3 separate regions of the Homo sapiens genome follow, and regions 1 and 2 are each linked to region 3. The links come from fine-mapping of genetic effects on gene expression. A gene starts in region 3. Each other region holds a variant in brackets. All regions are shown on one strand. Distances are from middle to middle.

Region 1 (4,157 bases), 22 kb before region 3:
TCTTGCCTCAGCCCCCCGAGTAGCTGGGACTACAGGCACCCGCCACCACGCCCGGCTAATTTTTTGTATTTTTTAGTAGAGACGGGGTTTCACCGTGTTAGCCAGGATGGTCTCGATTTCCTGACCTCGTGATCCGCCCACCTTGGCCTCCCAAAGTGCTGGGATTACAGGCATGAGCCACAGCGCCCAGCCAAGAAAATCTTATTTATGATGTATGCAGTTCACTTACCTTGCCTCAACAGAAGAAAAGTTAAATATTACGTTTTTTTCTTTTAGGAAATATCATTTGTGGTAAGCGTCAACCTCATTTTATTTGTCCTTATTCCTGTGGAAGCAGTACATGTTTTCTTCTTGAATGCTCATTAGGACTTCTTAAAAAACATGAAAGTAATTTGGAAGTAAGTTTATCCAATAAAGCAGTATTTCTACACTTTTAGATTTGATAAATATTTTTATTACTAAAGAATCCCCTAGACATTTTCTTTTTTTATTTCATGCATAGATTTAAGCATCTTGATTCTTAGTAATTTAAAAATGGGAAGAATGAAAAAGCATAACTAGATTTTTCTATCTTCTGTGGTTCCCCCCCACAAAATACCATTTATTGTTCTCCCCCAAGTATAAAAGCAATACATGCAAAAAAATATCTGAGAGAAACCAAAAAGTAAAAGGAAGGCCAAAAATCACCTGGTATCTACTCCCAGAAATAATCAATTTTAACATTTCGGGATATGTCTTTCCAGGCTTCTTTGGGTGTATATTTCTCACCCTCACCCATGAGATCAGAATATGTATGCAGTTCTTTCTTTAACCCTTTTTTTTCCCGTGTACTGTGAACATTTAAAAAATACTTTTAAATATTCTTTGGAAACTTAGCTTTTAGTAGCTACTTGGTTGTATCATAATTTATTAACTACTGTTTCACTGGTAAACATTGACTTGCCTCCCATGACTTGCCACTATAATTAAAACCGTGAGTACTGGCGGGGCGCGGAGGCTCATGCCTGTAATCCCAGCACTTTGGAAGGCCGAGGCGGGCGGATCATGAGGTCAGGAGATTGAGACCATCCTGGCTAACACGGTGAAACCCTGTCTCTACTAAAAATACAAAAAATTAGCCGGGCGCGGTGGCGGGCGCCTGTAGTCCCAGCTACTCGGGAGGCTGAGGCAGGAGAATGGCGTGAACCCAGGAGGAGGAGCTTGCAGTGAGCCAAGATTGCGCCACTGCACTCCGGCCTGGGCGAAAGAGCAAGACTCCGTCTCAAAAAAAAACAAAAACAAAAACAAAAAACTGTGACTACTATCTATCTCCATTAAAAAAAAAAGAAAGAGTACTAACAAGGATAAAAAAAGTCATTTTGTATGATAATGTGGCAATTCATAATTTTTGTATCATTCATATATTTTGCATTATTCACATTTCACATTCATATTTTCATTTATATTCATATTTCATATTCATATTATTTTTGTATTATTACTATTTCATAATTTTGTATGGTAATGTGACAATTCATATATTAGGATATAATAATCCTAAACATGAATACACCTAATAACAGAGCTTGAAAGCATAAAGCAAAACTGATAGAAATAAAATGAGAAATAGACAAATTCACAATTATAGTGAGAGATCTCAATACTCATACTCAATAACTAATAGAACAATAGACAAAAAAAATCAGTGAAGACACAGCAGATTTGAACAACACAATAAACCCACTTGACATAATTGCCACTTACAGAACTACTCCACCCAACAATAGCAGAATATACATTCTTTTTAAAGTGTACCCAGAATATTTAGTAATGTATATT[T/C]ACCAAGGTAGTCCACATTCTATGCTATAAAACAAGTCTCAATAAATATGAAAATGTTCAAGTCATACAAGATATATTCTTCGACCATGGTGGAATTAAATTAGAAATCAATAACAGAAACATCTCTGGAAAGTCCCCCACTATATGGAACTAAACAAGACACTTCTTTTTTTTTTTTGAGATGGGGTCTTGCTCTGTCACCAGGCTGGAGTGCAATGGCGCAATCTTGGTTCACTGCAACCTCTGCCTCCTGGGTTCAAGCGATTCCCCTGCCTCAGCCTCCTGAGTAGCTAGGACTACAGGTGTTCGCCACCACACCTGGCTAATTTTTTTGTATTTTAGTGGAGATGAGGTTTCACCATGTTGGACAGGACGGTCTCGATTTCCTGACCTCGTGATCCACCTGCCTTGGCCTCCCAAAGTGCTGGGATTACAGGCGTGAGCCACTGTGCCCGGCCACAAGATGCTTCCATATAATCCATGCTCAAAGAGGAAATCAAAAGGAAAATTAGAAGACATTTTAACTGAATGAAGATGAAAACAAAACATATTAATATTTGCGAAATGCTGCTGAAGTAATACGTAGGGGAAATTTATATTAGGGGAAAAGTCTCAAATCAATGACTTCAGCTTTCATCTTAAGAAACTAGGAAAACAAGAGCAAAAAATCCCAAAATAAGCAGAAGAAAGAAATATAAGAAAGGAAAGAAAAATAAAGATCAGAGCAGAAATCAATGTAATAGAAAATGAAAAAACAATACATTCAGTGAATCCAAAAGATGGTTCTATGAGAAGATTAATAAAATTGATAAACCTCTAACCAGACTGCCCAGGATAAAAAAGAGGACACAAATTACCAACATTAGGAATGAGAGAGGTGCTATTACAACACATTCCCAGATATTAAAAGAACACTAAGAGTACAGTATGAACAACTTTACTCATTTAATAAATTAGATAGGCAGAGTGCTGTGGCTTACACCTATAATCCCAGCACTTTGGAAGGCTGAGGCTGGAGAATTGCTTTAGGCCAGCAATTGGAGACTAGCCTGCACAACATAGTGAGACCCTTGTCTCTAGAAAAAAATTTTTTTAAATTAGCCGGGCTTAGTGGTGCATAGTCCCAGCTACTTGGGAGGCTGAGGTGGGAGGATTGCTTGAGCCAAGGAGTCTGAGGCTGAAGTGAACTGTGTTTGCACCACTGCACTCCAGCCTGAACAACAGAGCAAGACCCTGTCTCTTTAAAAATTAAATAAATAAATTAGATGAATGGACAAATTCCTTGAAAGACAAACTACCAAGGTTCACTTAAGAATAAACAGATGGGGGTGGGCGCCATGGCTCACGCATATAATCCCGGCACTTTGGGAGGCTGAGATTTTGCCCAGTCTGGGCAAAAAGGTGAAAGAAACCCCATCTCTACAAAAAATGCAAAAATTAGCCAGATATGGTGGCGCATGCCTGTAGTCCCAGCTACTCTGGAGGCTGAGGTGGGAGGATTCCTTGAGCCCAGGAGGTTAAAGTGGCAGTGAGTGGAGATTGTGCCACTGCACACCAGCCTGGGTGACAGCGTGAGACTCTGTCTTAAAAAACGTCCCTCTCCCGCTCCCTCTTCCCCTCCCCCTCTCCCCCCCCCCCCCACGGTCTCCCTCTCCCTCTCTTTCCACGGTCTCCCTCTGATGCTGAGCCGAAGCTGGACTGTACTGCTGCCATCTCGGCTCACTGCACCCTCCCTGCCTGATTCTCCTGCCTCAGCCTGCCCAGTGCCTGCGATTGCAGGCGCGCGCCGCCACGCCTGACTGGTTTTCGTATTTTTTTGGTGGAGATGGAGTTTTGCTGTGTTGGCCGGGCTGGTCTCCAGCTCCTAACCGCGAGTGGTCCGCCAGCCTCGGCCTCCCGAGGTGCCGGGATTGCAGACAGAGTCTCGTTCACTCAGTGCTCAATGGTGCCCAGGCTGGAGTGCAGTGGCGTGATCTCGGCTCGCTACAACCTCCACCTCCCAGCCGCCTGCCTTGGCCTCCCAAAGTGCCGAGATTGCAGCCTCTGCCCGGCTGCCACCCCATCTGGGAAGTGAGGAGCGTCTCTGCCTGGCCGCCCATCGTCTGGGATGTGAGGAGCCCCTCTGCCTGGCTGCCCAGTCTGGAAAGTGAGGAGCGTCTCTGCCCGCCCGCCATCCCATCTAGGAAGTGAGGAGCGCCTCTTCCCGGCCGCCATCCCATCTAGGAAGTGAGGAGCGTCTCTGCCCGGCCGCCCATTGTCTGAGATGTGGAGAGCGCCTCTGCCCCGCCGCCCCGTCTGGGATGTGAGGAGCGCCTCTGCCTGGCTGCGACCCCGTCTGG
Region 2 (4,273 bases), 150 kb after region 3:
TGGGATTGCAGGCGTGAGCCACTGCGCCTGCCCTACCTTACCCATTCTTTAGACTCACCTCAAGGCCCACCCCTGTAAAGCCTTCTGCAAACTGCCTCAGGTGTATCGTGCTCTGCATTCCTCAATAATTTATTTCAACAAACATCTATTGGATATCTTTGGGTGCAAGGCTGTAAGCCAGATACTCTGGGTAGAAGATACAATCTGCCTTTGAAGAGCTTACTGCTTAGTGGAGAAGAGAAAAACATTAAGTACAATTAATTATGTGACATAGCCAAATGAAATGAATGCTCCAGGTACTTACCAGAGCACGTGGGGGATGGGGGGTGAAGGGGTGGGGAAGGATAGGGAAGAGGGAGGACTGGGACATCTCCAAGAGGCAGGCTATGAGAACAGGATAGGTGAAAGCTTGAAAGTGGGACTGTGGGCCGGGTGTGGTGGCTCACACCTGTAATCCCAGTACTTTGGGAGGCGGAGGTGGGCAGATCATGAGGTCAGGAGATTGAGACCATCCTGGCTAACATGGTGAAACCCTGTCTCTACTAAAAATACAAAAAAATTAGCCGGGCATGGTGGCGGGCACCTGTAGCCCCAGCTACTTGGGAGGCTGAGGCAGGAGAATGGTGTGAACCCGGGAGGCAGAACTTGCAGTGAGTCAAGATAGTGCCACTGCACTCCAGCCTGGGCAACAAAAAAAGAAAGTGGGACTATGAAGGCTGAATTCAGGGTAAAGAGTGTCCAGTGTGTTTGAAGTTCAGGGTGTGTGCCAGGGATATGGAAAAATATAATGTTGGAAAAGTCATCTGGGGTGATGGGTGAAGGGCCTTAAATGGTAGTTTGGACTTTGCCCTGTTTGCAGTAGAATGTCATTGAGAGCTTGCTTTCTTCTTTTTAAAAAGTGGCTTTATTTTCTGATTATAGAATTAATGTTTTTTCCAATTCTCAATAGTTTCTAAAATATAAAAAGAATATGTCACATGTTAGAGAGCCACTTGATATTTTTTAGTTTATGCTGTGAGGAGTTTTTCTCTGTACATCCATAGATATATACACAACCATCTACACCATTTGGTACACATGGGATTAGACCGCGTGTTGCTAAGAACCCATGTTACCTTAGTCAAGACTGGTGTGGCGAATGGGCGGAAGAGGGGACCCTGGGGAGGTAGTGGCAGGGTCCAGTGGAAGACGGTAGGGCTTATCAAGCTCGGACAGTGGATGGGTGCCAAAGATACTTCAGAAACAGAACTTGCATTATATTGTCTTGTTTTCACTTTTAAAGTTATATTCCCTTTGTTTTAATTTTCATTTCAATAGCTACTTTTTATATTTTATTTTCCTACCTTTTTCTGGGCCAATTGTTGTGTTCCTTGAAAAGTCATTTCCATGATCTCATAGGTAGTGAAGCTTCAACTTGGACTTTTGTTACCATCTCTTGTCTCCAAGAAGAGAGATGAGGGAGAGCACTCTCTGTTAAAGATCATTATTGATTTATGTGGTTTGAACTAATTTTGACTATGATTGTAACCCCCCAATGGATTAATTTACCTTGCCCACTGCCTAGACAGAGCCGATTTATCAAGACAGGGGAATTGCAATGGAGAAAGAGTAATTCACACAGAGCTGGCTGTGCAAGAAGACCAGAGTTTTATTATTACTCAAATCAGTCTCCCTGAGAATTTAGGGACTGGAGTTTTTAAGGATAATTTGGTGGGTAGGGGGGCCAGTGAATTGGGGGTTCTGAT[C/T]GGTCAGGTCAGAGATGAAATCACAGGGAGTTGAAGCTGTCCTCTTGCATTGAGTCAGCTCCTGGGTGGGGGCTACAAGACCAGATGAGCCAGTTTACGAGCCTGGGTGGTGCCAGCTGATGCATCAAGTACAGGGTCTGCAAAATATCTCAAGAACTGATCTTAGGCTTCACAATAGTGACGTTATCCCCAGGGGCAATTTGGGGAGGTTTAGAATCTTGCAGCCTCCAGCTGCCTGACTTCTAAACCATAATCTAATCTTTTGGCTAATTTGTTAATTCTACAAAGGCAGTCTAGTTCATTTTGGGAAAGGGCTGTTACCATCTTTGTTTCAAACTATAAACTAAGTTTCTCCCAAAGTTAATTTGGCCTATGCTCAGGAATGAACAAGGACAACTTGGAGGTTAGAAGCAAGATGGAGTTAGTAAGATCAGATCTCTTTCACTGTCTCAGTTATAATTTTGCAATGGTGGTTTCATGATCGCTAAGAGTAGACAAGGATTAAATACTGATTGAACAGGAATTGCTAGTACAAGCCGTTTATTGACAGTGCTTAACAGGCTTCAGGCTCTGAGCTACATAAGGAAACTTGGCCAAGGTCACAGTTAACAATTGGCTGAGCTCAAACTGGAACCCCAGGCTACCTGCCTATGCTCATTTACCATGCAAAGTTAGGTCACTGATGATTTAAAATTGATGTTCTGAATGTTTAATAAATAAAGTAGGGAAAAACTCCTCACAAATACCTTACTTAAACTTTTATTTATGCTTGTGCTTCTGAACATACTCTGCTTTAATATTTTAAGTGATAAGTTTATAGTTTGAGCAAACATTACAGTGAGGATGCTAATGACATCCAGTTCCCCAGGCTGCTTTTCAGTTTTGATGCCCTGTTGCCAGTGAGGCCAGAGAATCAATTCTTCCAGTGACCCAGCAGTTTGCCCGCAACATTAGGAAAATCAAATATAAAATGTATATTTATAGCAAGGATAAAATTCCATGATGTGTCTTGAACATGGAGAATGAAATAGGAAGGCTATTTGTTCTTATCTCAGTATCTTAAATATGAAGCAGATCAGGGTAGAGGCCCTCTGTAATTTTTAAAGCTACAATATTTAAATATAAAATAAAATAATTTCATAATCTTATGCTATGTTACATTACATTTATATTATTATTTTTGAGACAAAGTCTCGCTCTTGTCCCCTAGGCTGGAGTGCGATGGCACGATCTTGGCTCACTGCAACCTCTGCTTCCTGGGTTCAAGTGATTCTCCTGCTTCAGCCTCCTGAGTAGCTGGGATTACAGATGCCTGCCAATGGTATTTTTGTGTTTTTAGTAGAGACAGGGTTTCACCATGTTGTTCAGGCTGGTCTCAAACTCCTGACCTCAGGTGATCTGCCCACCTCGGCCTCCCAAAGTGCTGGGATTATAGGCGTGAGCCATCACGCCTGGTCTGTATTCTGTTCTGTTCTATTCCTTATTCCAATCCACACTACCCTCTGAACCCCATGCCTAGGCCCCACCAAGAGCTGTAGCGGATGCTTAATGTTTGTAAATGTCTTCTCCCCTACCATGGCAGTGCAAATCAGCTCCTTCCATTGCGTTTATCCAACGCAGCCTGCCACCTCTGCCCCCTGGTGTCTCACCAATACATCTCATCTGTAAAGAAGAGTTCCTCCGGTCCCAGGAGGCAGGAGCTCCAGGGACTTGAGGGGGATGGGCTGCCCAGCAGTGGCTGTAAAGGGACTTTGCCCAGATATCAAGCTTTTGCGGTCAACTTCCGGAACAAATCGTGCTTTGTTCTTGCTTCCAGCCCAGGGGAAGCAAAGGGGACCTCTCTCATGCCTGCAGCTTGTTAAGCCCACTTCTCTCTAAGGTCAAAAGAACTTTATTTCTAAATCTGAGTGAAAGTGTCAGCTCACGTGTTTCTGCTGTAGACTGAGTTTTTGACTCTGCAGTTCATTTTTCAGGCTGCTGCTTCTCTGATTGCTCAGACTATTGCTTGGTTGCTAAGTAGGGAGCCACAGACCTGGTCCACGGAGACTTGGAAAGCTGTGTCCTGGCTTCATGAATCTCCAGCAGTTGGTGCCCTTTGCTACCCATCTTTAATCATCCCTTTCAGTCCCTTGCCTTCTCAGGTATGAGGTGTTTTTTGTTTGTGGTTTTTTTGAGACGGAGTCTCGCTCTGTTGCCAGGCCGGAGTGCAGTGGCACAGTCTCGGCTCACTGCAACTTCTGCCTCCCGGGTTCAAGGGATTCTCCTGCCTCAGCCTCCGAGTAGTTAGGACTACAGGCGTGTACTACCATGCCCGGCTAATTTTTTGTATTTTAGTAGAGACGGGGTTTCACCATGTTGGACAGGATGGTCTTGAACTCCTGACCTCGTGATCCGCCTGCCTCGGCCTCCCAAAGTGCTGGGATTATAGGCGTGAGCCACCGTGCCCGGCCTGAGTTTTTATTTAAAAGAGTATACCTGCTCCCCTACCCCTGGGACATTTGGGGGGTCAGTTTTTCTTTTTCTTTCTT
Region 3 (4,273 bases):
GAGACAGGGTCTTGCTCTGTCACTGAGACTGGAGTGCAGTGGTGCGATTAGGGCTCATTGCAGCCTTCATCTCCTGGGTACAAACGATTCTCCCACCTCAGCCTCTCTAGTAGTTAGGACCACAAGCCTGTGCCACCACAAACGGCTAATTTTTTATTTTTTGTAGAGATGGGGTCTCACTATGTTGCCCTGTCTTGTATGAGGTTATTCATTGCAGCTTAGCATGTAATAGTAATGGCTTGGCAACAAGCGGAATATCCACCTGTAGGGGATTGGTTAAATAAATTAGGATGTTTGCATAAGTGGAATATTATTCTGCCTCTAGGAAGAAAAAGGTAGTTCATTATATACTGATATGGCAGGATGTCCAAGACATTTTTTTCTTTTTTCTTTTTTTGAGACAGGGTCTCACTCTCATCCAGGCTGGATGGCAAGCTCCCGGCTCACTGCAGCACCGACCTCCTAGGCTCAAGTGATCCTCCCACCTCAGTCTCCAGAGTAGGTGGGACTATACGCATGCACCACCACGCCCGGCTAATTTTTGTATTTTTCATAGGGATGGGGTTTTGCCATGTTGCCGGGGTTGGTCTCAAACTCCTGGTCTCAAGCGATCAGCCCCCCTCGGCCTCCTAAAGTGTTGGGATCATAGGCCTGAGCCACTGTGCCCAGCCTATCCAAGATATTTGAAGTGAGAAAAAAAGGACTGAACAGCGTATATAGTGTGTTACCTTTTGTGTAAAAAGAAGTATCCCTATATTTTAATGTATTACTTACAAATATGTAGGGAAAGATACATTATTAAATGCTAAGTGATTGCCTTCCAGGACTGAAACAGCTAACAGACAGAGATGGGAGAATCAATTATTTTTTATTCTGTCATGTTTTGAGTTTTCTATTAAGACATTTCCTAATTTATATAGCTCTATAGAGAAAATGCATATAAAGAGTGAAGCTTAAAAGAAATAGTAGATGTTTAGAGGTGAAAGAAGTGTTCAGAATGATATGCTGAAGAAAAACATTAGTGGGCCGGGTGCGGTGGCTCACGCCTGTAATCCCAACACTTTGGGAGGCCCAGGCGGGTGGATTGGTTGAGGTCAGGAGTTCGAGACCAGCCTGGCCAACATGGTGAAACCGTGTCTCTATTAAAAATACAAAAATTAGCCGTAGGTGGTGGCTCCCCCCTTTAATCCCAGCTACTCCGGAGGCTGAGGTACTAGAATCGCTTGAACTCGGGAGGCGGAGGTTGCAGTGAGCCGAGATCCCGCCATTGTACTCCAGCCTGGGCGACAACAGCGAGATCTATCTCAATAAATAAATGAAAAGGAAAACATTAGTGGCAGAAGATGTTTAAATGACGAAGAAAGAGGGACGGTTTGGCTTCTTAGGGTAAGTTTACTGGAAATACCGAACAGCCTCCTGCGTCCTTTGCCTTTTTGCTGGACCTCTTGAGGACTCGAGGCTTCGACACCTGGAAGCAAGTCTAGGAAGCTCCGGGTTGGGCCGGATCCCCACCAGAGGCGAGGGGCGGAAGGCCTGGGTTTGTCACCTGAGCCCCAGAACCGGCATATCCGGTTCGGCCCGGCCCCGCCCTTCGGAACCTCACTAGCGGGCTACGCGCAGGAGGGCGTGAGCTCCCGGATGTGCAGGCCCTGTACTGCCGTGGCAGCCCTGCCGGACGCGGCCGCAGTGCCCAGAGGCTCAGGCCTATACCGCTCGGGCGGGTCCTTTGCCTGGCCCGGGTCATCAGACCCCACAGCCGGGAACGTCACCACCCCGGGCGTCGCCTCCCGGCCCAGCCGGCCCACAGACCCCCGCCCCCTACTCCCCCAGCGGGGAGGGGCGCAGAGGCATCACGTGACGCCCCGCACCCGCCCGGTCTTGGTCACATGGTGGCACGGCCGCTGCGTCAGTCACAGCCCTGGCTGCAGGAGTCCAGCTGCCGTCGCCGCCGCCAGCGGACGGGGCGGGGATCCTGGTGCCAGGTCTTCGTTAACCCGCCCCCGCCGCCTCAGTCAGCTGTCCCAGCCCGGGCCCGACCGTCATGGAGCGGTGCGGGGCCTACGCCTGTTCCGTGTGAGGCGCATCGCTGCCGCCGCCGCCGACGCCGCCTTCGTTTGTCGAGGCCTCCGGAACCCCCGCCGCCTCCCGGAGCCCCTCGCCCTTGGCAGCCTGTCACCGCCCCCTGGGCGGGCTCGAATGCGCGTCCGGTGAAGGTGCAGGCCCGGCGCCGCCACTGCCGCAGCCAGGAGATGGTTCGGGCCTAGCGGAGCCGGGACTGGAGGTAAGAAGGGCCGACAGACTGACCCAGGGCCGGGCCGGGCCGCGGGGGTTGTGGCCGGGGCCGGGTGGGGGTGGGGGCCCGCAAGTTCTGCGGGGAGCCTCGGGGAGACCCTCCGGGCTGGGGCTGCTCAATCAGGCGTCACCCCTCCTCTCATCTGCGCGTCCCACCCCACCACCTTCCCGCAAAGATAAGAAAATAAAAAAAGCTAACCCAATCCTAACAAAAATTCCCAGAAATCCATCCGTTTAGTGTTTCTCCTTTCCTCTTTCTTTCCTCAGACGTTCCATCGGCTGATTTGTTACTTTTTCATATCCTCCTCAATTTCAAATTATGTCTAATTAAAGAGAAAATAGGCCCAGATTCTGGCTAACATTACCCAGCTAGTTCTCGCTTTCCTTCTCGCGATCCTGCGCACCTCTCCCACACCCCCACCCCCGCAAAAAAAAAAAAAAAAGAAGGAAAAATTTCCGCCTTCGACTTGCGAAGGGGATTGACTAAAAATGGGAACGTGGGGGTATAATACTCGAATACCCTCCCCTACAACTTCTGAATCGGTCTGTTACCTAGTTATCCCAGTAGCTTGTGCGTGGATATTGATGTTTAGGCCTTTCCTCCAGCTGCCTGTGCTTGGGGTTAATCTCGTAATTGACGTCAGTGCTTTGTTCCTTCTACTTTGCTGTTCCTTCCACTCTTTGAGGATGGATCATGGAGTACAGGAGTTTTGGGAGTAACCTTATTGCCTTTTCGTTTACAAACAGTATTATTTTCAGGAAGTGGAAGTACGAATCTGAAATGTTTGTATATGGAGTTCAAGGCGAAGAGTTCGATTTAGGGTTCTCGTAGTTTTGTCAGTTGTAATTCAGAATTATGCGGTTTCTTCCCTGCTGGCCACATGGAAATTTTATACTAAGGCCAGTCACTTTTCCATTGACCAGTGTTTTTCTTGATGGAATCTAAGCTATAGGTGTCTGTGAATAGACTGTAAATGTAACATAAAATGTGTGCTGTTTTTCGGGCTCAGATATGAAAAGCGCAAAGCTTCGTTTCTGTATTGATTCTGCACTTCATAAAGTGCTTTTTAAAACTTAACTGGTCTTTAACTTATCAAAATTGAAATATTTATGAGAACTTTCTTAATTTGGGATTTGATAAAGAGCCTTTGTGGTCTGTGAGTCTGCCTAGAATCATCTTTGGTCATACGTGCATAAAGAAGTGTTGGCAAGTGGCCACTTGGTTTTCAACAAAGCTGGCTTCTTTAAATTTCTCAGATTCGTTTTCCTTATTATCACTGCATCTTTCAGCTCCTAAATATAAGAAAAATTCCCAGTAAGTTATTTTAAGTTATCTTTCAGAGTTAACTTACTAAAAACCTGGAAGCAGTCAAATTTTTCTTTTTTTATTACCAGCAGTTTCATTCAATTTGCGGTGGTTTGCAGGCTGGTACTTTGATTTTTGTTAACTCTCTAGAAACAGTAGGCAAATTTTACTTTAAATAAAATTTTGCTTCAAGTGGGGACAAGATGGGGTGTCTGAAAAAAGAGCCCAGCTGTGTTAATTGGAACATGATCTACAGTTTGGGAGTGTAAGGTGAAGCTGTGTAATTAAGAATTCTTAAAGATTGAATATTTTTGTTCTGAGTCACTTTCTACTTGTCAGATTCTCACATTCAGGTTGATACATTCTCTTCTGTGTACTCTTGAGTTATTGTACCCTTTTTGTAGCAATATATTCTGCAGCCGGGCCTGGTGGTTCACGCCTGTAATCCTAGCACTTTAGCACTTTGAGAGGCCGAGGTGGGCGGATCACCTGAGGTCAGGAGTTCTAGACCATCCTGGCCAACATAATGAAACCCCGTCTCTACTAAAAATACAAGAATTAGCCAGGTGTGGTGGTGCACACCTGTAGTTCTAGCTACTTGAGAGGCTGAGGCATGAGAACCAAATTAGCCAGACATGGTGGTACATGCCTGTAGTCCCAGCTACTCCAGAGGCT

Which allele goes with the higher level. Alleles are on the strand shown, and positions count from the first base shown. SD is a standard deviation of normalised expression in the study named.
With allele T in place of C in region 1, the expression in regulatory T cells of the gene that starts at base 1,906 in region 3 is lower (large effect, 1.2 SD a copy in Schmiedel 2018).
For the expression in spleen of the gene that starts at base 1,906 in region 3, C is the high allele of the variant in region 2 and T is the other (moderate effect, 0.48 SD a copy in GTEx).

What was found. PIP is the estimated chance that this variant, and not a neighbour inherited with it, causes the effect. A credible set is the group of variants that fine-mapping cannot tell apart.
Region 1: its variant is the best candidate, but not a certain one, in a credible set for the expression of AFF4 in regulatory T cells (Schmiedel 2018, PIP 0.77).
Region 2: its variant is the best candidate, but not a certain one, in a credible set for the expression of AFF4 in spleen (GTEx, PIP 0.76).

Annotation. Positions count from the first base shown.
Region 1 is chr5:132,983,246-132,987,402 of GRCh38, reverse strand. It overlaps the pseudogene LOC402230. Among named protein-coding and RNA genes, the nearest start is that of AFF4-DT, 22 kb to the right of the region's middle. The variant T/C (reference allele first, on the strand shown) is at 1,819.
Region 2 is chr5:132,806,679-132,810,951 of GRCh38, reverse strand. No RefSeq gene overlaps it. Among named protein-coding and RNA genes, the nearest start is that of SOWAHA, 4.5 kb to the left of the region's middle. RefSeq lists a silencer at 2,181-2,475. The variant C/T (reference allele first, on the strand shown) is at 1,746.
Region 3 is chr5:132,961,267-132,965,539 of GRCh38, reverse strand. AFF4 (ALF transcription elongation factor 4) reads left to right here and starts at 1,906. Exons shown (of 21, transcript NM_014423.4): 1 at 1,906-2,281. It overlaps AFF4-DT (AFF4 divergent transcript), which reads right to left and starts at 1,728. Exons shown (of 2, transcript NR_186175.1): 1 at 1,406-1,728; 2 at 850-1,299. RefSeq lists a silencer at 1,612-2,451.